2 linked regions of the Homo sapiens genome follow. The protein of the gene in region 1 interacts with the protein of each later gene in a pairwise test. Each region holds a gene or a part of one and is shown on either strand. Other genes may lie near its edges.

Region 1 (16,569 bases):
GGATGGATATATTAGACTATATTAAAATGTATCTAACCTGTTATTGGACTTAGGGCTTATTGCTGTTCATTCCTTCATTCAACAATTATTTTTTGGACTCTACAATTTGCCTAGTAGTACACAAGATGCAGTCAACAAGGCGGCTGTGGTTTCTTCCATCACTGACTGGGCATTCCTCATGTCCTCATACTTTGTGCATAAATAGGAATATAAATTTACAGGATAAATTCAACCGGTGAAATTGCTGGATGAAATTAGATGTGTATTTTTCAGTGTTGAGTAATATAACAAACTGTCTTCCAAAGAGTTTTCAGTGCCTTCCAAAGGTCGCAGTAGCTCAGGCCTGCAATCCCAGCACTTTGGGAGGCTGAGGATGGTGGATCAATTGAGCTCAGGAGCTCACGAACAGCCTGTGCAACATGGTGAAACCTCATCTCTACAAAAAATAACAAAAATTAGCCAGGTGTGGTGGCACGTGCATGTAATCCCAGCTACTTGGGAGGCTGAAGTGGGAGAATCGCTTGAGCCCAGGAGGTGGAGGTTGCAGAGAGCCGAGATTGTGCTACTGCACCACAGCCTGGACAACAGAGTGAGGCCCTGTCTCAAAAAAAAAAAAGAAAAAAAAGAAAAAAAACTCTATAACTCATCACTCTGATATTACATGATTTTGCCTTTTCCTCCATAACCCACACTGTATTATCAAACACAATTTGTGTATAAACCTGCTAAAAGAGATATACTTTTTCATTGTTATTATAATATGCATTTATTTAAGTGTGATTAATAATCTTTTATATACATGTAAAATTTCAAAATTTCTTTCCAGTTAACTGAAAATGGCCTGTTTTTGCTTTTGTTCTTTTTTTTTTTTATTATACTTTAAGTTTTAGGGTACATGTGCACAATGTGCAGGTTTGATACATAGATATACATGTGCCATGTTGGTTTGCTGCACCCATCAACTCGTCATTTACATTAGGTATTTCTCCTAATGCTATCCCTCCCCCAGCTCACCACCCTCCAACAGGCCCCAGTGTGCGATGTTCCCCACTGTGTGTCCAAGTGTTCTCATTGTTCAATTCCCACCTCTGAGTGAGAACATGCAGTGTTTGGTTTTCTGTCTTTGTGATAGTTGCTGAGAATGATGGTTTCCAGCTTCGTCCACGTCCCTGCAAAGGACATGAACTCATCCTTCTTTATGGCTGCATAGTATTACATGGTGTATATGTGCCACATTTTCTTAATCCAGTCTATCATTGATGGACATTTGGGTTGGTTCCAAGTCTTTGCTATTGTGAATAGTGCCGCAGTAAACATACGTGTGCATGTGTCTTTATAGCAGCATGATTTATAATCCTTTGGGTATATACCCAGTAATGGGATTGCTGGGTCAAATGGTATTTCTAGTTCTAGATCCTTGAGGAATCACCACACTGTCTTCCACAGTGGTTGAACTAATTTACACTCCCACTAACAGTGTAAAAGCATTCTTATTTCTCCACATCTTCTCCAGCACCTGTCGTTTCCTGACTTTTCAATGATCACCATTCTAACTGGCGTGAGATAGTATCTCATTGTGGTTTTGATTTGCATTTCTCTGATGACCAGTGATGATGAGCATTTTTACATGTATCCGTTGGCTGCATAAATGTCTTCTTTTGAGAAGTGTCTGTTCATATCCTTCACCCACTTTTTGATGGGGTTGTTTTTCTTGTAAATTTGTTTAAGTTCCTTGCACATTCTGGATATTAGCCCTTTGTCAGATGGGTAGATTGCAAAAATTTTCTCCCATTCTGTAGGTTGCCTCTTCATTCTGATGCTAGTTTCTTTTGCCATGCAGAAGCTCTTTAGTTTAATTAGATCCCGTTTCTCAGTTTTGGCTTTTGTTGCCATTGCTTTTGGTGTTTTAGTCATGAAGTCCTTGCCCACACCTATGGCCTGAATGGTATTGCATAGGTTTTCTTCTAGGGTTTTTATGGTTTTAGGTCTAACATTTAAGTCTTTAATCCATCTTGAATTAATTTTTGTATAAGATGTAAGGAAGGGATCCAGTTTCAGCTTTCTACATATGGCTAGCCAGTTTTCCCAGCGCCATTTATTAAATAGGGAATCCTTTCCCCATTTTTTGTTTTTGTCAGATTTGTCAAAGATGAGATGGTTGTAGATGTGTGGTGTTATTTCTGAGGCCTCTGTTCTGTTCCATTGGTCTATATATCTCTTTTGGTACCAGTACCATGCTGTTTTGGTTACTGTAGCCTTGTAGCGTAGTTTGAAGTCAGGTAGCATGATGCCTCCAGCTTTGTTCTTTCTGCTTAGGATTGTCTTGGCAATGTGGGCTCTTTTTTGGTTCAATATGAACTTTAAAGTAGTTTTTTCCAGTTCTGTGAAGAAAGTCATTGGTAGCTTGATGGGGATGGCATTGAATCTATAAATTACCTTGGGCAGTATGGCCATTTTCATGATATTGATTCTTCCTACCCATGAGCATGGAATGTTCTTCCATTTGTTTGTGTCCTCTTTTATTTTGTTGAGCAGTGGTTTGTAGTTCTCCTTGAAGAGGTCCTTCACATTCCTTGTAAGTTGGATTCCTAGGTATTTTATTCTGTTTGTAGCAATTGTGAATGGGAGTTCACTCATGATTTAGTTCTCTGTTTGTCCGTTATTGGTGTATAGGAATGCTTGCGATTTTTGCACATTGATTTTGTATCCTGAGACTTTGCTGAAGTTGCTTATCAGCTTAAGGAGATTTTGGGTTGAGACGATGGGGTTTTCTAAATTTACAGTCATGTCTTCTGCAAACAGGGACAATTTGACTTCCCATTTCCTAATTGAATACCCTTTATTTCTTTCTCTTGCCTGATTGCCGTGGCCAGGATTTCCAACACTATGTTGAATGGGAATGGTGAGAGAGGGCATCCTTGTCCTGTGCCGGTTTTCAAAGGGAATGCTTCCAGTTTTGGCCCATTCAGTATGATACTGACTGTGGGTCTGTCATAAATACCTCTTATTATTTTGAGATACGTTCCATAAATATCTAGTTTTTTGACAGTCTTTAGCATGAAGGGCTGTTGAATTTTGTCAAAGGCCTTTTCTGCATCTATTGAGATAATCATGTGGTTTTTGTCATTGATTCTGTTTATCTGATGGATTACATTTATTGATTTGTGTATGTTGAACCAGGCTTGCATTCCAGGGATGAAGCCAACTTGATCTTGGTGGATAAGCTTTTTGATGTGCTGCTGGATTCGGTTTGCCAGTATTTTATTGAGGATTTTTGCATCGATGTTCATCAGGGATATTCATCTAAAATTCTCTTTTTTTGTTGTGTCTCTGCCAGGCTTTGATATCAGGATGATGCTGGCCTCATAAAATGAGTTTGTGAGGATCCCCTCTTTTTCTATTGATTGGAATAGTTTCAGAAGGAATGGTACCAGCTCCTTTTTGTACCTCTGTTAGAATTTGTCTGTTAATCGGTCTGTTTTTTTTTTTTGGTTGGTAGGCTATTAATTATTGCCTCAATTTCAGAGCCTGTTATTGGTCTATTCAGAGATTCAACTTCTTCCTGGTTTAGTCTTGGGAGGGTGTATGTGTCCAGGAATTTATCCATTTCTTCTAGATTTTCCAGTTTATTTGCATAGAGGTGTTTATAGTATTCTCTGATGGCAGTTTGTATTTTGTGGGATCGGTGGTGATATCCCCTTTATCATTTTTTTGTGTCTATTTGATTACTTGATTCTTCTCTCTTTTCTTCTTTATTATTATTATTATTTATTTTTTTTTTTTTTTTGATACGGAGTCTCGCTCTGTCACCCAGGCTGGAGTGCAGTGGCATGATTCGGCTCACTGCAAGCTCTGCCTCCTGGGTTCACGCCATTCTCCCACCTCAGCCTCCCAGTAGCTGGGACTACAGACGCCCGCCACCACGCCCAGCTAATTTTTCTGTATTTTTAGTAGAGACGGGGTTTCACCGTGTTAGCTAGGATGGTCTTGATCTCCCGACGTCGTGATCCGCCTGCCTTGGCCTCCCAAAGTGCTGGGATTACAGGCGTGAGCCACCATGCCCGGCCTTCTTTATTAGTCTTGCTAGCAGTCTATCAATTTTGTTGATCGTTTCAAAAAACCAGCTTCTAGATTCATTGATTTTTCAAAGGGTTTTTTGTATCTCTATCTCTTTCAGTTCTGCTGTGATCTTAGTTGTTTCTTATCTTCTGCTAGCTTTTGAATTTGTTTGCTCTTGCTTCTCTATTTCTTTTAATTGTGGTGTTAGGGTGTCGATTTGAGATCCTTCCTGCTTTCTCTTGTGGGCATTTAGTGCTATAAATTTCCCTCTACACACTACTTTAAATGTGTCCCAGAGATTCTGGTATGTTGTGTCTTTGTTCTCATTGGTTTCAAAGAACATCTTTATTTCTGCCTTCATTTCATTATTTACCCAGTAGTCATTCAGGAGCAGGTGGTTCAGTTTCCATGTAGTTGTGCGGTTTTGAGTGAGTTTCTTAATCCTGAGTTCTAATTTGATTGCGCTGTGGTCTGAGAGACAGTTTGTTGTGATTTCTTTTCTTTTACATTTGCTAAGGAGTGCTTTACTTCCAATTATGTGGTCAATTTTAGAATGAGTGTGATGTGGTGCTGAGAAGAATGTATATTCTGTTGATTTGGGGTGGAGAGCGCTGTAGATGTCTGTTAGGTCTGCTTGGTGCAGAGCTGAGTTCAAGTCCTGGATATCCTCGTTAACCTTCTGTCTCATTGATCTGTCTAATATTGACAGTGGGGTGTTAAAGTCTCCCATTATTATTGTGTGGGAGTCTAAGTCTCTTTGTAGGTCTCTAAGGACTTGCTTTAAGAATCTGGGTGCTCCTGTATTGGGTGTATTTAGGATAGTTAGCTCTTCTTGTTGAATTGATCCCTTTACCATTATATAATGACCTTCTTTGTCTCTTTTGATCTTTGTTGGTTTAAAGTCTGTTTTATCAGAGACTAGGATTGCAACCCCTGCTTTTTTTTTGCTTTCCATTTGCTTGGTAGATATTCCTCCATTCCTTTATTTTGAGCCTATATGTGTCTCTGCATGTGAGATGTGCTATAGACATCTGATGGGTCTTGACTCTTTATTCAATTTGCCACTCTGTATCTTTTAATTGGGACATTTAGCCCATTTACATTTAAGGTTAATATTGTTATGTGTGAATTTGATCCAGTCATTATGATGTTAGCTGGTTATTTTGCCCATTAATTGATGCAGTTGCTTCATAGCATTGATGGTCTTTACAATTTGGCATGTTTTTGCAGTGGCTGGTACCAGTTGTTCCTTTCCATGTTTAATGCTTCTTTCAGGAGCTCTTGTAAGGCAGGCCTGGTGGTGACAAAATCTCTCAGCTTGTCTGTAAAGAATTTTATTTCTCCTTCACTTATGAAGCTTAGTTTGGCTGGATATGAAATTCTGTGTTGAAAATTCTTTTCTTTAAGAATGTTGAATGTTGGCCCCCTACTCTCTTCTGGTTTGTAGGGTTTCTACTGAGAGATCTGCTGTTAGTCTGATGGGCTTCCCTTTGTGGGTAACCCGACTTTTCTCTCTGGCTGCCCTTAACATTTCTTCCTTCATTTCAACCTTGGTGAATCTGACAATTATGTGTCTTGGGGTTGCTCTTCTCGAGGAGTATCTTTGTGGTGTTCTCTGTATTTCCTGAATTTGATTGTTGGCCTGACTTGCTAGGTTGGGGAAGTTCTCCTGGATAATATCCTGAAGAGTGTTTTCCAACTGGTTCCACTCTCCCCATCACTTTCAGGTACACCTATCAAAAGTAGATTTGGTCTTTTCACATAGGCCCATATTTCTTGGAGGCTTTGTTCATTTCTTTTTACTCTTTTTTCTCTAACCTTGTCTTCTCGCTTTATTTTATTAATTTGATCTTTAATCACTGATACCCTTCTTTCCACTTGATGGAATCAGCTACTGAAGCTTGTGCGTGCATCACAAAGTTCTTGTGCCAGGCTTTTCAGTTCCATCCGGTCATTTAAGGTCTTCTCTACACTGTTTATTCTAGTTTGCCATTCGTTTAACCTTTTTTCAAGGATTTTAGCTTCCTTGTGTTGGGTTTGAACATGCTCCTTTAGCTCAGACAAGTTTGTTATTACTGACCTTGTGAAGCCTACTTCTGTCAACTCATCAAAGTCATTCTCCATCCAGCTTTGTTCTATTGCTGGTGAGGAGCTGTGATCCTTTGGAGGAGAAGAGGCGCTCTGGTTTTTAGAATTTTCAGCTTTTCTGCTCTGGTTTCTCCCCATCTTTGTGGTTTTATCCACCTTTGGTCTTTGACGTTCATGACCTACACATGGGGTTTTGGTGTGGATGTTCTTTTTGTTGATGTTGGCGCTATTCCTGTCTGTTTGTTAGTTTTCCTTCTAACAGTCAGGTCTCTCAGCTGCAGGTCTGTTGGAGTTTGCTGGAGGTCCATTCCAGACCCTGTTTGCCTGGGTGTCACCAGCGAAGGCTGCAGAACAGTGAATATTGCAGAACGGCAAATATTGCTGCCTGATCCTTCCTCTGGAAGCTTCGTCCCAGAGTGTCACCTGCCTATATGAGGTGTCTGTCGGCCCCTACTGGGAGGTGTCTCCCAGTTAGGCTATATGGGGGTCAAGGACCCACTTGAGGAGGCAGTCTGTCCATTCTCAGAGCAGAAATGCCATGCTGGGAGAACCACTGTGCTCTTCAGAACTGTCAGACAGGGACGTTTAAGTCTGCAGAAGCTGTCTGCTGCCTTTTGTTCAGCTATGCCCTGCCCACAGAGGTGGAGTCTATGGAGGCTGTAGGCCTTGCTGTGCTGCAGTGGGCTCCACCCAGTTCGAGCTTTTGGCCCACTTTGTTTACCTACTCAAGCCTCAGCAATGGCAGATGCCCCTCCCCCAGCCAGGCTGCCGCCTTGAAGTTAGATCTCAGACTGCCACGCTAGCAGTGAGCAAGGCTCCATGGGTGTTGGACCCGCCAAGCCATGCACAGGAGAGAATCTCCTTGTGTGCCAGTTGCTAAGACCTTGGGAAAAGTGCAGTATTTGGGTGGAAGTGTCCTGTTTTTCCCGGTACATCCGTCATGGCTTCCCTTGGCTAGGAAAGGGAAATCCCCCAACCCTTTGCACTTCCTGGGTGAGGCAATGCCCCGCCTTGCTTCAGCCCACCCTCCATGGGCTGCACCCACTGTCCAACCAGTCCCAGTGAGATGAACCAGGTACCTCAGTTGGAAACGCAGAAATCACCCATCTTCTGCATCGATCACACTGGGAGTTGCAGACTGGAGCTGTTCCTATTCGGCCATCTTGGAATGGATCCCATTTTTATGTTTTACTGATTTATAAAATATTTTTATGTATTTTAGGCCTTTTTATATATTTTAGGCCTTTGTCCTTGATTTTTATCTGTTACATTACTTATACTATTTTTTTCTGTGCAGAATTTTAAATTTTAATGTAATCAAATGAATTGATTTTATTAGTCTTTGATTGCCTCTGGGTTTTATAATCTCTTCTCTTGTCCAAAATTTTTTCTAGTTATTTGTGTCTTCTCTTTTTTATGTTGGGGTCTTTGATCTATTGAGATTTGTTTTTATGTTAGGAGTAAAATAGGAATCCAACTTTATTTATTTTCATTTTTTAGATGGCTATATAAGTATCCCAATATCATGAGTAATAAACTAATATGTACTTAGTAACTACTGAATATGAAAACACAATCTCAGGTCCTATGAAGAATGAAGCTTAAATGAGGCATTAAACATATATATGTATAGAGATAACTAACAATAAAACATGTTTCATTTACTAATTTCATTTTAGCTGCTTTAAAAAAAGTAATGTTTAAATAGAAAAATAAAATTGACCATCAGCCTCTGGGACATAATATATTTTTTTCTGTATTCCTTAAATAAGGAATTGTTTTCATTGTACCATGCCCTTGAGGAATTGGCTAGCAGGACTGTGTCTAAATCCACCGCATAGAAATCAAGTTTCTGTCTGTGAACTCTTTGTCTTGCTTTTCTGCCAACTGGAAAGGAAAAGGAAAGGGTAAGAGTGCAAAACTTTTTTTCATTTTCCTCTGCAATAGCACTTAATTCAACTCTAACTTCTTCATTCATAATATAGAAGCCCTATAGTTTTTGTATAAAGAAAGCTTGATAAGTGCCTCAGTCACAATGAAATTTCTCATTATTCTAGTGTTTGTATTTGAAGTTATGATGAATTAATAAGGTTTTATTATATAATCCTAATAGCTAATGTGCTTATAGAATGCAACATACTTTGGTAAGTAGGGTTTTCATGGATTATCTTTTATTATTTTCTCATTTTAGAAGAAACAGATATAAAGAGTAAGTAACTTGTCTGAAATTATGTAGCCATTAAGTGTTGAAGCAGGGATTTGAATTTGGGTTGGGCTCAGGAGAGAGCCTGCGCTGTCAAATACACTGCACTTGCCTCTTATATTTAAAACAACAAACATATAAAACAGCTAACCATTCACTTCTCTGCCTGTTCTACATAGTCTCATGAATTCCTTATATCAAGTGATAGCCTAGTTCCTTATACTTTTGTTCCATGTGATAAGCTTTTTATGCTATAATTATCTTTATGGTTTTCCCAAAGCTTTCCAAATTCCATAGATTCTCCCTGCTAATTTCTCTCTAAATGCAGCTTCTTTTATAAAATTTTTCATATCATGTGTCCATTTCAGTTTCCACTCTGCTCCTGATAGTTATTGCCTTTGAACAAATGTGTAATTTCTCATAGCTTTACTTTACTTTTTTTTTTTTTTTTTTTTTTTGAGACGGAGTCTGGCTCTGTCGCCCAGGCTGGAGTGCAGTGGCGCAATCTCGGCTCACTGCAACCTTCGCCTCCCAGGTTCAAGCGATTCTCCTGCCTCAGCCTCCTGAGCACGCACCACCACACCCAGCTAATTTTTGTATTTTTAGAGATGGGGTTTCACCATATTGGCCAGGATGGTCTTGATCTCTTGACCTCGTGATCCATCCGTTTTGGCCTCCCAAAGTGCTGGGATTACAGGCATGAGCCACTGTGCCTGGCTGGAGCTTTACTTTTCTTATTCTTATAATGCCACAACAGTAGCTACTTCTCAGGGTGATGGTGAGGAGGAATTCAAAAGATGGCATTAGACCCTATAAAAGTGCTCCAAATATGGTGGTTCTTATTTTGTTTCAAAGTACATGAAACATGTAAGAAGAAACCTACTCTGTTACAAAACATAGTTAACCCATAACATTTTAAATGTTTATTTACTTCTAATGTTTGCAAAACAGACACCTTCCAATGATGAATATTTATTTTTAGCCACTTCTTTGTTGTTGTTGTGGACATAGGGTGGTTTGTTTGAGAATTGCTCAGTAGCAGTTTATTTACATAATTTATTTATGACAGCTATACTGTGAATTTATGTATCAGTGGATAAGTAAAGACCAAAGTTCCAGGTTTAGATCTTTCAGTTTGCAAAAATTGTGCGAGATAGTGATTTGTGCCTCTTTACAGAAGTCAGTTTTTCAAGTGTGTGGTTCCAGTTGGTTTACTCATGACTTAATTTATTCTTTCATTCAACACGTGTTGTTATCTCCTGGGTGTGCAGCACTCTGCAGAGATGAATAAGCTGAGGCCCCTGCCAGTATTAAACCTAAATGATCCCTTCTAATGAAGCCACAACTTTTATCATTCCACAGGAAAAAAAAACACATTATTTCTATATAGTTACTAATGTGCAGCTTCCAGCATTTTACTTGAATTGGAATGAAAAAGATTTTTATGTCTGAGGAAACTATCAGAAAAGTAAAAAGCATTGTAAAATACTGTTAACAGTTATTCTGGTACCCCCTAAGACTGGAGGAGGAAGAGAAATGCACCGTGTAGAGTAGAATGAAGATATTAGGACCTACAATGTGCCTGTTGTTCTCATGCTTTTGGAAACTGCTATTTAGGTCACCAATTATTTCTTTGTTGGCAAATTGACTTTTTTCTTTCTTACTCCTCTCTTGCATTTAACTCTTAGCAACATTCTCTCTTTTTTCAAAGTTAAGAAAGGTTTATTAAATACAGAAATGAAATAGAGGGAGACAGACAGAGAGAGAAAGAGAGGGAGATAAATCAGAGATGGGGGTGAGGGGGAGCAGAGCAATGCAGATGGCACTGTCCTCCCTCTCGTGTACCAGTGCTGGTTCTCTTCAGGTCCACTCAGTTTCTGTCTTCCTCCAGCCATTCCCAGCCATTAACATTTCCCAAGGCTCAGCATTTCCCTCTCTAGTTTTTGTCGTTTGTAGTTTCTCCTCCAGATCATTGTGATTTTTGTGGTTATAGTTACCTTGTTTATTCCAATTACTCTCAAATATAAAATCTGTCATTTTCTCTGCACTGCAGTCTCACATTAATAAGTCTCTTTAAACTCAAAACAAATGTATTGTAACTTGTGAAAAATTGAGAGTGCCAAAAATCATGAGAATAAAATTAAAATATAAATATAATAATTTTTAAATACATAATTTGCTTTAGTATTTTCCACAATATGCTGGTAGTGTTTGTATGTTTGCGTATATGATTAGCTATTTCCGGTGGTTCTTTTGGAAAGAAAGAAAATGGGATTTCTTCAGACCATATTTTGACAAGATCCAGTATCCAAGTATACTGCTCCTGGGCTCTTCTAACTCATTTGATTGATTTCTATACTTCCTTATTTCAAAAAATACTAAAAGTGGTGTTTCAGCTTTCTATTGCTGAGCAACAAGTCACTCCAAGAATTAGTGGCTGAAAACACAATGATTTATTTGTTTTTGATATCACCAGTTTGGGCAGGGCTCAGTGGGAGTGGTTCATCTCTGTTCCACATGGCATTAGATGGGAACTTGGCTGAGGTCACACTATCCAGGATGTCCTCTCAACCTCCATGCCTCTCTCCACATGAATTGCTATCATTCAGTAATCTCACATAGTGTCTGGATCCCAAATAGTACATTCAGAAGGTACCAGGCTTCTTAAAGCTTGGCCCACACAGTATCACTTCTGCCAGTTGATATTAGATCAAAGCAAGGTGGAAGGCCAGCCTAGATTCAAGGGGAGTGAAGCAAATAGATGCCATCTCTTAATGGGAAGAATGGTGCATGGGTATCAGGAGGGGAGGAATTGGTGGCTGTCTTTGGAGGATATCTACCATGGGTGGTGAATGAAAGTTGCTCAGCTCTGAATTTGTGATTAACCCCTGTCACCTCAGATCCTTGATAAAAGAACTTTCAGTTTTCACAGCTGAAAAGATACCCTAGATTAAACTCTTGACATAATGGATGGCAAAGTTTATACACAATGCCAAAGCTTTTCTTCCATTTTTACAAAATCATTACCATGTATGCCATTTGTAGACAATTTTAATTTTATTTTTCAGTTACTAAAAAACTATTATAAGTGGAGAGCAGAATGTCCAGAAATAAGTGCAGATCTACACCCTAGAAGTATTATTGGCCTCCTAAAGGCTGGCTACCATGGAGTCCTGAGATCCAGGGATCCCACTGGCAGCAAAGTTCTTATTTACAGAATCGGTAAGTCATACACAACTCTTTTTTTTTTCTCCTCTCCTCCAGTTCAGTTGTGTTCCCTCCCCTCTCCTCTTCTCTCTTTCTTCCATTTCTTCCTTGAATACCATATAGAAAGCTTCAATGCATTCATCTTTAGGAATTTGGGCTTTAATTTAAAATTTTAGGTTTTAACTTAGATTTAATTTAGGTCTTAATGTCCCCCAAATATAATAACACTTTGGTAATTGTGAGAAAATTAACAGATACAAGTGAAAATCCTAGTTCCATTCTTCCACACAGTCAACTGTACAAAATAAGAAGAAAGGAAAATAGTGAAGATGAATAGTGTGAGAATATTTTAAAAAATCATGGAAAAGTGTTTCAAAAATGCTTAGTAGGAAGTGCAAATAAGAATTCTGAACTATTGGCTGGGCATGGTGGCTCACACCTGTAATCCCAGCTGAGGTCAGGAGTTCGAGACCAACCTGGCCAACATGGTGAAACCCCGTCTCTACTAAAAGTACAAAAATTAGCTGGGTGTGGTGGTGCATACCTGTAATCCCAGCTACTCGGGAGGCCGAGGCAGGAGGATTGCATGAACCTGGGAGGCAGAGGTTGCAGTGAGTCAAGATTGCGCCATTGCACTCCAGCCTGGGCAAAAGAACAAGAGTCCGTCTCAAACAAACAAACAAAAAACAACCAGAATTCTGGGCTATAATGTAAACTCCATGAGATTGTGGATTTCATCTACTCTGTTTGCTGGTGTATCCCAAGCACTGAAAACATGGTCTGGTACTTGGTAGGTAGTCACTAAATATTTGTGGAATGAGTGAGTGAATGACTAGTTCGAAAATGCCCCAGGCCGAGGAGCAAGAGGCTCATTCTCTTGGGTGGAGGAGGGTGCAGAGGAAAGGCAACTCCTCTGGGAGCTGTTGCAGACACGGTATTCCATTAACTCCTGTTTATTCTCATTGCATCCCCTTTTTTTCTATTAGGTGTAGCTAGTGTTTCTTGTAGGTTGGTGTCTTAGTGTATTCAGGCCACTATAACAAAATGACGTAGACTGGGTGACTTATAAAAACAGAATTTTATTTCTCACAGTTCTGGAGGCTGGGAAATCCAAGATCAAGGCACTGGCAGATTTGGTGTTTGGTGAGGGCCTGCTACCTGGTTCCTAGGTGACATCTCTCACTTTAACCTCACATGTTGGAAGTGAAAAGGCATCTCTCTTGGAACTCATAAGGGCACTAATCCCATTCATGAGGGTTCCATCCTCATGACCTCATCATCTTGCAAAGGGCCCACCTCTTACTACCATCACTTTGGGAGTTAGAATTTCAGCATATGACTGTTGAGGGGATGCAAACATTCAGATCATAGCAGTTGGTGACCTATAACTTCTGTCCTCCCTCAGACCTGCATATGATTAAAAATGGCCGGCACAGGAGAACGACTCACACTATTCCCAGAATTTCTCATGGCCCAGTTGAAGGACAAAGATAAACCAACATTTCATGACCAGAATTTTTTAATTATAATTTTACAGAAACAACTATATCTTTAAAGATTTAAAATATTTAAATATTTGCATTTCTTGCCTGCTTATAGATAAGATACCTGCCTGTAACTCAACTGCTTGCCATACTGCAAGAAGTTACTGTATTTAATTTTTGAAAGGATATTGGAAGATCGAGTAAAATGATTTGGGGCTGTTTTTTAATTTTTTTTGCCCTAGCTTAAGTGTCAAATAAAATTGAGTTAATCATGAAATCCCATCTATAAAACAGACATCATGATCTTCCTGTTCTTTCATTGCTGCACCAGTGTCAGAGGAAATTGAATGAGCTCATAGCAATGAAGTTCCTTGAGCTTCTTAGGGGTAGTCTTGCCAGATTTAACAAAGTACCTATGTTTTATTTAGGAAATAAACCTATATGTTATAAAAATAAAGGATGCCCAGTTATTTGAATTTCAGATAAACAACAGTTTTTTTAAAGTATGTATGGAGCATTCTTATGTTAAAAATTATATACTGGTTATCTGAAATTCAACTTTAATTGAGTGTTGTATATTTTTACCTGGCAACTCTACTCAGGGATCCAAGAAACATAAAACTGAAACCTGCAGCTAATTATTTTTGTAAATGTCTTGGCTCTGCATTGTCTGGCTAGATTTTATTGTGTCTAGTTTGTTCATAAAGTGACTGAGGCAGGTGAAGAAGTAAAAGTGACACCTTGATAGTGAGAAAGCAGATGTGCAGTTTTGATCATAAATACCTTAACACTGAACCAGTAGGGGTATTTTTCTGGGCCTCATGTAGCACATTAATTTAGAAGTATATTGTTTAACTCAAGAGATTTGAAAATCAAGAAAACATGTAACTTAGTGATGGTCAGAACAGGAAGGTATGTTGCAAATCTCCTGTATGTTCTGTTATTCTAGGATGAAAGGGAGAAACTCAGAAAGTTTTATGAGTAAAATGAAAACTTTTCTAAATTTGATTGAATTAATGGGAGGAGCTAAAGAAGGAAATCTGTGGTGGAACTTTTCGGTAGAACTTTAGCATAACCACCTTCTCTAGATACCATCTCTGTGCAGTAAAAGCAATGAGAAAATGCACACAGCCCTTTCCTCCATGCGGGCCGGGCAACCCAAGGTGAAGCTAAGTTTTGACCTTTATCAGCCAACATGCTGTAGGATATAATTTTATGTTTTTTGAGATCCCATAGTATACTACTAGCAGCAAAAGTAAAATTTAACAGTGAGTGTGAAGTTTTGACTGTGGCTTAGTTCTTGTGAATACAGGTTCTGGAGCATGTGACCTGGATTGGAATCTCAGCTCTGCTACATTCTAGCTGTGTGAAACACTATGTAGCTGTAACTGCATTTTCTCATCTGTAAAATGGGCACATTGAAAAGCTGTCACATAGGGTTGCTGTAAGCATTAAATCAATCTATCAGTCTGTCTATCTAAAATATAACAAGAGCATTACCTGGTACATAAAAGCACTCAATACATATTAAGTAGATACTGGAGAAGGAATTCAAAATATAAGGTATATTTTTCTTTTGCCTCAATGGAGCTTAAATTCTAGCCAGCACTGTACCATAGAACTTTCTATGATGATGAAACTGTTCTACAATAGACACTATTCTCATGTGGCTATTGAGCACTTGAAATGTGACTACTGCAACTAAGAAACAGATTTTTTTTTTTTTTTTCTAAGCTAGGGTCTTACTCTGCCATCTGGGCTAGAGTGCAGTGGCACAATCATAGCTCACTGCAGTCTTGAACTCCTGGGCTCAAGTGATCCTCCCACTTCGGCTTTTGGAGTAGCTGGGACTAGAGGCATGTGCTACCACACTCAGCCAGTTTTTTTATTATTTTTATTTTTTAGAGATGCATTCTCACTATGTTGCCCAGGATGGTCTCACTCCTGGCCTCAAGCAATCCTCCCCCATCAGACCCACAAAGTGCTGGGATTCTAGGCATGAACCACTGCACCTGGTGAAACTAAATCTTTAATTTAAATTTGAATGACCACACATGGCTAATGGCTACCATATTAGCCAGTGTAGGCCAAACAATTATGTTGGTTGGCTCAGAACTTAGGACATAAACTATTTTTTTGATTGGCAAACTTCATATGTTCTTTTTTTTTTTTTTAATCATTATAGCATTCAGCCAATGTCTGAAGTTAGTATAGTATTTTTGATCTGGGTTATCCATGGGTTGATTGTTCAAATTCTTATGAGAAATCTGAGGCTTGTTTTTTTGTTTTGTTTTGTTTTGTTTTGTTTTTTTGAGACAGAGTCTTGTTCTGTTGCCCAGGCTGGAGAGCAGTGGGCCATCTCGACTCACTACAACCTCTGCCTCCCGAGTTCAAGCGATTCTCCTGCCTCAGCTTCCCAAGTAGCTGGGACTACAGGTGTGTGTCACTATGCCCAGCTAATTTTTGTATTGTTAGTAGAGATGAAGTTTCACCATGCTGGCCAGGCTGGTCTTGAACTCCTGGCCTCAAGTGATCTGTCCACCTTGGCCTCCCAAAGTGCTGGGATCACAGGTGTGAGCCACCATGCCCGGCCAGAAATCTGAGGCTTTTAAAAAACACTAACACACCTCCTGAAGGATCCATTAATATGACAGAAAATAAAAATTTTTAAAAAATAGCAATCCCATTGTGGCTTCTTAGGAATATTTCTGTTTATTCTTTCTTTTTCTAGATCTTCAACTTTTCTCTTGCTACTACATGCTACCAGTTAACATTTAAATCAGTTAAGGGCCAGCCACTAAAAACAAAACAAAAACTCCTCATTCGTTCCACAAAACTCTCCCTCCTTCATTACATCTATCTCCCCTCTCTTTGTTAGTGATGTCCACCATCCACATTTTCTCACAGTTCCTCCTCAGCCCACCCTAGTTTGATTTCACTCCCATCCCTGCTGAAATGAATGTAACCAACCATTATTGACTTTCTTTTTACCACATTTAATGGACATATTTAGTCCTATTTCACTTAACCTCTCAACAAAGTGAATCACTTCTGCTTTCTTGAAAAATCCTCTTCCCTTGGCTTCTCTGATGCCATGTTCTCTTGGTGTTTTTCTCTGACATCACTGGCTGCTCCTCCTTAATCTCTTTTTCTGGCATTTCCTCTTCTACTCATCCTTTAAACTCTGAATTTTTTTAGGACATTGGCCTCAGCCTTTTCTTTTTATGTTACTTCATCTCTCTGCTTTGATAGAGAAAAACATAGCTCTGAGACAATCCCTGTTGTGGATCATCATGTAGGCACAAACAGCCCCCAGATTTGTATCTTCACTCCCATCTTTTCCTTGAGGATCCAGACCCACACAACTAGCTGCTATTCCAGCTGCACCCAGTTGGATGTCTCATGGTCACCATTTTAACATGTCCATACTTATAATCTTTTCCACCCAAACAGGTCTCTTATCTCAATAAATGGTACTGCGTGTACACCATGGAGTACTACACAGCCATAAAACGAATGACATTATGT
Region 2 (10,843 bases), on another chromosome or scaffold:
CCAAAGTGCTGGGATTACAGACGTGAGCTACTGCACCTGGCCTGACTTTTTAAAAAAATAAATGTTATTGTGTATATTTAAGGCACACAGCATGATGTCATGGGATACATATAGATATTAAGAAGGTTACTATAGTAAAACAAACATATCCATCATCTCACATTAGTTACCCACTTTTTTTTTTGTTTTTGTAGCAAGAGCAGCTAAAATCTCATCTAGCATGAATCCTGTCTACTGTATGGTTTTATTACCTGTAATCTTCAGTTTGTACACTAAATCTCTTGACTTGTTCATCCTACATCTCTGCTACCCCCAGGACTGATTTAAATTACTGTATTCTGTCTCTTAAGTACATGCAAACAGAACTAGGCATAAATGCTATTTTTTTTTTATGGGGTCTCACTATGCCACCCAGGCTGGAGGGCAGTAGCATGATCATAGCTCAGTGCAGCCTTGAACTCCTGGACTCAAACGATCCTCTCACCTTGGCCTCCCAAACTGCAGGTGTGAGCCACCGTCCCTGGTCCATGAACTTTATCTTAAAACTCTTACACGGTCATAAAAACAAAACAATATTAAATGGAAGAATGAATACAAATTAAATACAAACAAAACTGAAAATCAATGAGATCCAAGTTTTGCCAAGCTAAATGGCAGATAAACAGGGCTCTGGCCTACGACTACACAGGTTCCTTTGAATCTGGCATGCATGCTATTTTATGATATGGGGAGGGTTCAGTTCTGATACCACGTTTCTTTATTTGACTCACACACACACATACACACACAAAAAAAACCTTTGTTCACACAGCAGGTCATTTGGTCTCCACCTGTTGCATATCCATCACGTGTATTACAGCTCGTTCTTTCTTGGTGCCAAAAAGTGATCATAAACTCAAACAAATGTGGGCACTGAACTGCTTGGTAGGTTTCAGGGTTAAGATGGTTATCCAGATAGTCCAAATGATGCTTATGTTACTCTAAAAATCAGTACAGAAGTGGTCACCAAAATTATGAAATTCTCTAAAACACAGACTGCAAGAATACATCCTGTTTGAAAAACACTGCAGTAATCAGCCAGGCGTAGTGGCTCACGCCTGTAATCCCAGTGCTTTGGGAGGCCGAGGTGGGCGGATCACTTGAGGTCAGGAGCTCAAGACCAGCCTGGCCAATATGATGAAACCCCGTCTCTACTAAAAATACAAAAACTAGCCGTGCATGGTGGCGCGTGCCTGTAATCCCAGCTACTCGGGAGGCTGAGGCAGTAGGATCACTTGGCAGTAGGTTGGCAGAGGTTGCAGTAAACTGAGATTGCACCACTGCACTCCAGCCTGGGGGACAGAGCAAGACCCTGTCTCAAAAAAAAAAAAAAACAATAAAAAAAAACCCAAAAGAAAAACACCAAAAACACTGCAGTAATCAAATGAAAGATAAATACAGTATGATCCTCCCTTTCATAAAGTCCAATTAGGGAAGAAAAGGCATAATAATTGTAATTAATATAGGCAGTGAAAAGTGCCAGCCCAGAGGGACAGCTTAGGTGCTGCTGGGAAGGTTCAGATAAGGAAGAAATTACTTCCAGCTTTTGGAATGAACATATTAAGATGGCAATATTTAGACAGATGAAATGGACATCTCGACAGAGGAGTCGATGTGAATAAATACACAGAGGTGGGAAAGTGGAAGGTATTGATAAAGAGAAAGAAATACTTGAGTGTGTGTGTGTGTGTGTGTGTGTGTGTGTGTACATGTAGGGGGTACTTGGTGGAACAGTAGTAGGAACTGTAACCAGAAAATGGGAGAGTTTCAAATGCCAGAATAAAGGGCTTGCAGTTTATTTGGAAGGTTTCTGAGCAGAGTAGTCCACCCTTTCAAGAGTTTGTGACAATGGAATCATCTGGATGTGGGATGCTTTTGTTTTCAAAGTTCACAGAGCCTCAACTTCTAAACATCTTCATATACATACATAAATAAATGCATGATACATCCACACATATGTTTCAAGCTTTTTTTCCAGATTAAAAAATGATACTTTATTATAATTTTTAAAATTGCAGAACGTCAGGCTGAATATCATTAGACACATACACAAAACCACTCATCTCTAAAGTCATCTTCTATACCCTCTCAAAATTTGGCCAATGAATTATGCCTCAGGGAATTTTCCAGTTCAACCCCATACATAAATGGAAACACTAGCCTTTTGGTTTTGCCCACAGTTCCAAAGTGCTATTACAGGTGGAGTATCTGCTGCAGGAGGTCATTCTTGCTGCTGTGGGTGTGAGTAAAATGTCTATCTGTATGCCTCTGGTCCTGCAGGCTTTGTTCTCTTTCTCCTTGTTTGGTCTCCTTCTACAGGGGTTACCTTACATACTGCAATCAAAAGACATCTTCTGCTCGGAATCAAAACAGATAGTGAGAGGTTCAAGTGAGAAGTAATGTTACATAGTAAGTTACTGAATTTACAATGAGAAATTGAACTCTGGGGTTACAACTCAAATATGATTTCAAGGTAAAGAAAATAATTACTTGGCTGGCTGGTGAAATGCTTAGTTCCTTCTAAAATCATAATTGCAATATGGACTTCTGCTTCATGCTGCATTCCAAGGCACCAATCAGGTAACCTACATCTCCCAAATGATCAACAGAGCGTTCCTTCCTATTTTACCCTCAGTGCTGAGAAATTACTCCTGAGCCCAGAAGTTGTTGTGTAGGTGACTTGGGTGACTTGGTGCCCAGGCAACAACTGCCACAGGCCCCACCTTGATGAACACCATTGATTTCTTTAAATATGATGATACTAAGATGGAGGCCCCTGCTCAGAGGAAGCAAGGACGTAAAAGCCAGGACAGGCTGCGCTGAGGGTCACTACACTAACAGACCCAGACGACACGATGGAACGTGAATACTGAAGCCAACAATCTTCTGGAACTCTCTTTTCCAAAACTCATATGCTGTTTTTTCTAATTGGGAAATCAGGGACAGGGAAACATTCGCATAATTACCCACCAACATGTTCTTCTTAACAGAAATGAAGATTATTATTATTTTTTTTTTGAGACAGACTGTTGCTTTGTCGCCCAGGCTCGAGTTCAGTGGCGCAATCTCAGCTCACTGCAAGCTCCGCCTCCCGGGTTCACGCCATTCTCCTGCCTCAGCCTCCCGAGTAGCTGGGACTACAGGCGCCTGCCACCACGCCCGGCTAATTTTTTGTATTTTTAGTAGAGACGGGGTTTCACCGTGTTAGCCAGGATGGTCTCGATCTCCTGACCTCGTGATCCGCCCTCCTCAGCCTCCCAAAGTGCTGGGATTACAGACATGAGCCATCGTGCCCGGCTCCACTTTGGTTTTTTCTAATCGGTTCAGGATCTCATTTACTTTCTTCTCCATTGTCACAATTTTTACATCCTTCTGCCTGTGAAAGCCTATCTGCCTCACATCCACGTCAGCTGTTTTCTTCAGGTTAGACCGTGGAGTATTTACCACATTAACGTTGTTCTTGCAGCCTTGAGTGCTATTGGCCTTCACAAGGTGGGCGCAGTCTGTCAGCACTTCCTTTGGAATGTCCTCTATATTCTCTCCCTTATGCAATTGAAGGTATACATGAGCCAAAGAGAGTCTGTCCGCACGAAACCAGATATATTCAGGCCAGCCATGCTTCATCAGATCTTCATGATGATTTATGGGTTAGTAGGAGAGATATAAAACTCAAGGGCCGGGCGCGGTGGCTCATGCCTGTAATCCCAGCACTTTGGGAGGCTGAGGTGGGCGGATCACGAGGTCAGGAGATTGAGACCATTCTGGCCAAAATGGTGAAACCCTGTCTCTATTTCATATTTATCCTTTCCCATGTAAATAGCGCAGGCAGATGAATTAACGCTGCTGCTGGTGAAGTAGAACACCATGATGCTGGCGGGGGTGCGGTGACTCCACCGTGGAGCAGCAGCGTTCAACTGTGGCGGTTGCCTGGTCCCCGGAACTCTCCTCTTTTTTTTTTTTTTAATGCATTATGGAAACTTTTTTATGTGATTTTTGTACATAAGGAATATGAGAGTAACTCTTTTACAAATGAAACTAATTTACTAGAACAAACAGTGACAAAACTGAACTGATATTTGATGTGAATCCATAGGAGTTTAAGCTTCAAATCCAGCCAAGAAATTTGTTACAACTCCATCAGCTTTGCATCTGAGTCTTCTGAGATCTTTCCATCAGCCCTGATAGTGCCCAACAGGGCTTAGCGCTGGCTGACAACATGAGACAAGAAAGCATTCTCAAACTTTGTAATCTTGCTGGGCTCCAGTTTATCAAGATACCCCCTTACACCCGCACAGATAACAGCCACTTGTTGTTCAGTAACCATGGGAGGATACTGTCCTTGCTTCAGCAACTCAGTTAGACGCACACCGCGACTCAATAGTTGTTGAGTGGGAGCATTGAGGTCAGAACCAAACTGGGCAAAAGCAGCAACCTCACGATCCTGAGCCAATTCCAGCTTCATGGTACCTGCCGCCTGCTTCATAGTCCTGGTTTGGGCAGCAGATCCAACACAAGACACAGACAGACCCAATGTTAATGGCAGAGCGGATATCTTTGTAGAACAATTCTGTTTCCAAGATCTGTCTGTCAGTGATGGAAATGACATTTGTTGGAATGTAAGCAGACACATCATCGGCCTGTGTTTCTATGACTAGCAAAGCAGTCAAGGAGCCACCACCAAAAGCATCATTCATTTTGGCTGCTCTCTCCAGCAACCGGGAGTATAGGTAAAACACATCACCAGGACAGGCCTTACGACCAGGGGGGTCGGTGGAGCAACAGAGACATCTGACAGTAAGCGACAGCCTGTTTGGATAAGTCGTCATAGATGATCAAAGTATATTTGCCATCGTCTCTAAAATACTCTCCCATGGAACAGTCAGAGTAAGGAGCCAGGTACTGAAGTAGGGCAGCATCTGAGGCCATAGCTGACACCACAGTGGTGTACTTCACGGCATCTGCATCTGTAAGTCTCTTCACCAACTGAGCAACAGTGGATCTCTTTCGACCAATAGCAACATAGATACAGTACAGCTTCTTCTTTTCTTCAGATCTATCATTGAAATGTTTCTGGTTAATGATTGTGTCAATAGCAATTGAGGTTTTCCCAGTCCTTCGGTCACCAATAATGAGCTCATGCTGACCACGACCAATTGGCACCAAGCTATCCACAGCCTTAATGCCAGTCGGCATTGGTTCCCACACTGAAGTTCGAGGAATGATTCTGGGGGCTTTCAGACCGACTCACTTATGGGTCTTGGAACCCATTGGACCCTTTCCATCAATAGCATTACCAAGGGCATCAACTACACGACCCAACAGCTCCTCACCGACTGGAACGTCCACAATGGTTCCTGTCCTCTTCACTATACCTCCTTCCTTACTTTATTATTTTCAAACACTACAATGCCAACATTGTCAGTTTCGAAGTTCAAGGACATATCCTTTAAGCCTGAAGAAAACTCTACCATTTCTTCTGCTTGGAACATTCCTCAGCCCATGTACATGGACAATACCATCACCAATACTTAAGACATGCCCAGTTTCTTCAAGGTCAGCAGAGGTATCAGCTCCAAGAACATGCTCTTTAAGAATAGAGGACATCTCAGCAGTCCCAGTCTTCTGAAGATGAGTGTTAGAGGCATGGAGGTTCCTTGCAGCAATGAAAGATGAACCCAAAGCATTTCTGGAGACCAGTCCTGCCCACCGAGTGAGGTCACGGGCTACGGCCGCGGAGACACACACAGACAGCATCTTTGCAGTTTCTCCACAGGTGGTACCTCCACAGCCGCAGCCTCTGGACTGACTGGGACCGTTTCAAGCATTTTTAAATGAAACCTGATGTTGATGAAATCTCTGAAAGTCAAGTCAGGTATCTTACACAATGCTGTAATTTCATTTCAATCCTTTTCATAAAGGGTAAAGTCCTTGTATATATTCTTTCAATACATGCTTTATCTAAGACACAAGCACTCTATCAATAAAAGTTTTAATTTAAACGACCAAAAAATTGGTGAGAGAGTGCTCAGAACTGAGGATAAACATGTAAGTAGTTTTTTGTCCCAGATGAGCAATGATTTATGTTGACTAAGGTGTGCTGAATTAACTTATTCCATTAAAGTGTAAAGGGAAGACAGGTTGATAAGCATAACTTTTACCTTGATAAATGTTTTCAATGATTTCTATTGCATGTAGACTGAAACACCTAGCATGTAAATTATTGCAGTAGAATCTGTCTCTAAGTCTCAGCTGGGTCTGTGAATTTGTTCTAATTTGATAGCTTCATACAACTGATGAAGCTCAAAAATGGCTTGACTCAAGATATTTCATACACCTTTCTTTTGCTCTAATTTCTGCTACGACAATAACCCAGCTATTTCAGCTGATGGCGGGAACACTGCAACTGGACAAAAATGACACGGATGGGTGTAGAGCCTCCAAACAATAAGTATCTGATTAATGCTGTTGACACCTAAGTCTACAGAGGCTATTCTCCAACGGCCAGGACATCATTAGGTAAGACATTTCAAAATTCTTCGTGAGGGCACGATTGCTTCAGAGGACTACAAAGTGACACATTAGGTCGTCATAAATCACCGCAGTACCATCCTGGCTAACACGGTGAAACCCCGTCTCTAAAATACAAAACAATGAGCCGGGCATGGTTGCGGGCGCCTGTAGTCCCAGCTACTCGGGAGGCTGACGCAGGAGAATGGCGTGAACCCGGGAGGCGGAGCTTGTAGTGAGCCGAGATCGCGCCACTGCACTGCAGCCTGGGCAACAGAGCAAGACTCTGTCAAAAAAAAAAAAAAAAAAAAAAAAAAATCACCGCAGTAAACCACACTCCAACGGGCCTGCACACTCAGGGTCTTGATTAGAAACAGTATTTAAAAAAATACCTCCACATCTGTTGCACCACAATGCCAAGGTATAACCAGGGCCACTTTCTCCAGGAGGCACAACAGGCGCAGGGCCAGGGAAGGGCCTCTGACACTTTTAGGATCTCAAGAAATTTTTTTTTTTTGGTTATTTTTCTTTGTTTGTTTTTGAGACAGAGTCTTGCTTTGTCGCCCAGGCTGGAGTGCAGTGGTGCTATCTCGGCTCACTGCAACCTCCACCTTCTGGGTTCAAGCGATTCTCCTGCCTCAGCCTCCCGAGTACCTGGGATTACAGGCGCCTGCCACTACGCCCGGCTAATTTTTGTATTTTATTTTATTTTTTAGTAGACACGGGGTTTTGGGTGTTGACCAGGTCTCGAACTCCTGACCTCAAGTGATCTGCCTGCCTCAGCCTCCCAAAGTGCTGGGACTACAGGCGTGAGCCACCATGCCCGGCCTCAAGAAAATGTTTTAATTTCCTTAAAAAACCTTAAGAAAAATCAACTTTTAAGTTGAAAAAGTTTATATATTAACATATTCATCTTTATATCAACACAGCAGTAAAATTTATTTTTTAAAGTGATAAAAACTGTACAAATATTTCTGGTGTGAAACACAGTGTTTTGATGCTCGCGGACTCTTGGATTCGAGGCTGCGGTAGTACGGACAAACACCGTGCAGCGGCATCTCATCTCCGCCAACAGCCGGCGATCAAGCGGGCAGGCTGGGAGAGGGCGGGCGGAAGAGGCGTGGCCGCCGCTACTGCGCACGTGCACCCAACCAGAACCTGGGGGTGGTGCCGGGCCTTCCCCGCTGCGCGGAGGCGTCCTCTCAACCCTTCTGCCCGGCGACTGGTGGGTTGGCGGCTAAGGGGCGGAGACAAGAGGGGCCGCCACCATCTCCTCCAATGGAAGGGAGACAGGGGCGGGCTTAATGACGGAAGGAGCATGGCGTGGAGACACCTGAAAGTGAGTCCCGCGAGTGAGCAGTGTGGATGGGGGACCAGGGACCGGGGAGGGCGAGAACGGAGAGTCAGGCCGGGCGAGGCATGGACCGAAGGCGGCTCCGGGAGTGTGGGCCCCCCTGGGACGTGTGCGTGTTTCCGGGGTCTCCTGCAAATGCTCGTGCGTGTGCATTTGCACGTGGACTCGGTCAGGCGTGTGCAGACAGCGCCTGCAGGTCTGGGTGGGTGCTGATCTGAGTGTCTGCGCCTGGGCCATGTTTTTGAGCCTGGCACAGGGGTGCTTAGTGAACACATGACCGCCTAGCGTTGTGTGCCGGATCCAACGGGGAATGAAACTAGAGTAGGACATGCTCCCAACCCTTTTAGGTAAAGTTTTGTTAGGGGCGGGGGTCTCTGTGAAAAGTTCTTAGCTGTATCCCCGTATGTAATAGGTGTTCAGAGGCCGGGCGCGGTGGCTCACGCCTGTAATCCCAGCACTTTGGGAGGCCGAGGCGGGTGGATCATGAGGTCAGGAGATCGAGACCATCCTGGCTAACAAGGTGAAACCCCGTCTCTACTAAAAATACAAAAAATTAGCCGGGCGCGGTGGCGGGCGCCTGTAGTCCCAGCTACTCGGGAGGCTGAGGCAGGAGAATGGCGTGAACCCGGGAAGCGGAGCTTGCAGTGAGCCGAGATTGCGCCACTGCAGTCCGCAGTCCGGCCTGGGCGACAGAGCGAGACTCCGTCTCAAAAAAAAAAAAAAAAAAAAAAAAAATAGGTGTTCAGATATTTGTTGATTGACATGGTGGGGGGGAGTACAGTCTCCAAGGGAGGCAATGAATAACCTTGACTTTCTTTTTATATGTTTATTTGAGACGGAGTCTTGGGCTGTCGCCCAGGCTGGAGTGCAGTGGCGCGATCTTGGCTCACTGCAACCTCCGCCTCCCGGGTTCAACCGATTTTCCTGCCTCGGCCTCCTGCGTAGCTGAGATTACAGGCGCGCGCCACCACGACTGGCTAATTTTGGTATTTTTAGTAGAGACTGCAGTTTCACCATGTTGGTCAGGCTGGTCTCGAACTCCTCACCTCGTGAGCCTCCCAAAGTGCTGGGATTACTGGCGTGAGCCACCGCGCTCGGCCTGAGTCTCTTTTTAAAATAAATAAATGGAGAGAGATGGGATCTCACTGTGTTGCCCAGGCTGGTCTAGAACTATTGGCCTCAAGGGATCTTCCCGCCTCAGCCTCCCAAAGTGGTGGGATTACAGGCGTGGGCTACCGCGCCCAGCCAATGAATACTTGATCTACATGTCTTTAGCAGTTTGGAAGGATCCTTAAAAGCAAATCTAATCATGTCATTTCCTGGCTTAGGGAACAAAACCCAAATCTTTATTTTGGCCAAGACTCCTGCTCCTTTCTCCTGCCTCGTCTTAAGCCTTACTTTCCCTCACTCCTCTGTTCCAAACTTTCTCCCTTTTTCATTCTCTTCTGCTACTGAGAGAGCCTTTACACTTTTTCCTCTCCGTACTGCCTTCTGGTTAACTATTTTTTTAAATAATTGAACCAGAATAGGTTCAGAGAGACCCCCATCAACTCGTTTATCCCTTGAGTATCAGCTTTAAGTCATTTCCTTAAGGAAGCCTTTCCTTACCTCTAAGATTAGGTTGAATACTTCCATTACCTTATACTTTTTATCCTTCATCACAGTTGCTATGACTACATATTTGCATGATCATTAATTTCTGTCTGTCGCTTCATAAGATCACACTCTCCATGAGGGTAGGGGCAAGATCTGTTTTGTCATCTTTGCTCAATCAGTATTTGATGAATGACTGAACTAATGAATGAATAACTCAGCATGTGGCAGTGATAGAGAAAAGCATTGTGAACCACTTTTGATCCAATAAGATCTGAAGCTTCTGTTTTATATTTTACACCCCCGTTACCTTGAAATGGAATATATGTATAATGTCTTTGTATGTATACATTTTTGAGAGAGTCTGACTCTGTCGCCCAGGTGGAGTGCAGTGGTGTCATCCCGGCTCACTGCAGCCTGGACCTCCTGGGCTCAAGGGATCCACCCACTTCTGCCTCCCAAGTAGCTGAGACCGCAGGCGCACCACCATGCCTGGCTAATTTTTTATATTTTGTAGAGACGGGGTCTCACTATGTTCCCCAGGCTGGTCTCAAGCGCCTGAGCTCAAGCAGTCCTCCCACTTCAGCCTCCCAAAGTGCCGGGATTACAAGCATGAGCCACCAAGTCCAGCTATGTGCAATTTTTAAAAGCCAGCATAATTAATACCCTAACTGGAATATAAAGGAGAAAATGTAAAAGTAGTTTATATTAATAATAAAATTACATGTATTTCAGTATGTAAATATTGCTATGACTCCCCTAGTGAGATAGTTGTGTTTAAGTCTCTACTTAGAAATGCAGGTACACAGGTGTGTTACATATCAGGCACCCCAGGAAAGCACTGTACCATTCCCGATGAGATTTTCTGAAATGGTGAACAATTCTTGGGAATGTTCTATGTGAAACTGTACAGTTGTCCCTCAATTTACAAGATATTTGTACTGTATGTGAAAACCATGTAGAGGCTGGGCACGGTGGCTCATGCCTGTAATCCCAGCACTTTGGGAGGCCAAAGCAGGAGTACTGCTTGAGCCTAAGGGTTCAAGACCAGCCTGGGCAACATAAAGAGGCTCTATCTCTTCAAAAAATTGGCTGGGCTTGGTGGCATGTGCCTGTGGTCCCAGTTACTTGGGGAGGCTGAGGAGGGGAGGATTGCTTGAGACCAGGAGGTCAGGAAAGACAGTTTGTGTTTATGTGGTAAAATATAGTTTGGCTTAGATAATATGAACGGATAATTTTTACCCACACAAATGTCAGAATGTTCAAAAGTCACACAGGAAATGGGGCAGTTCATGTCAGATAGTCTCAAGCCAAGAAGGATGTCTGACTTTATGGATTCCTGCCCACCAC

What was found.
Region 2: the proteins of TTPA (region 1) and DHODH interact in binary tests that used the Homo sapiens proteins (3 or more experiments, as listed by UniProt).

What each region holds. Positions count from the first base shown.
Region 1 is NC_000008.11:63,067,938-63,084,506, reverse strand, and holds part of TTPA (alpha-tocopherol transfer protein), read left to right. Parts: intron 1-7,919; exon of another isoform or gene 7,920-8,054; intron 8,055-11,418; coding exon 11,419-11,572; intron 11,573-15,360; coding exon of another isoform or gene 15,361-15,477; intron 15,478-16,569.
Region 2 is NC_000016.10:72,000,901-72,011,743, forward strand, and holds the start of DHODH (dihydroorotate dehydrogenase (quinone), mitochondrial), read left to right. Parts: upstream 1-7,843; 5' UTR 7,844-7,864; coding exon 7,865-7,885; exon of another isoform or gene 7,886-8,009; intron 8,010-10,843. UniProt on the Homo sapiens protein: Catalyzes the conversion of dihydroorotate to orotate with quinone as electron acceptor. Required for UMP biosynthesis via de novo pathway.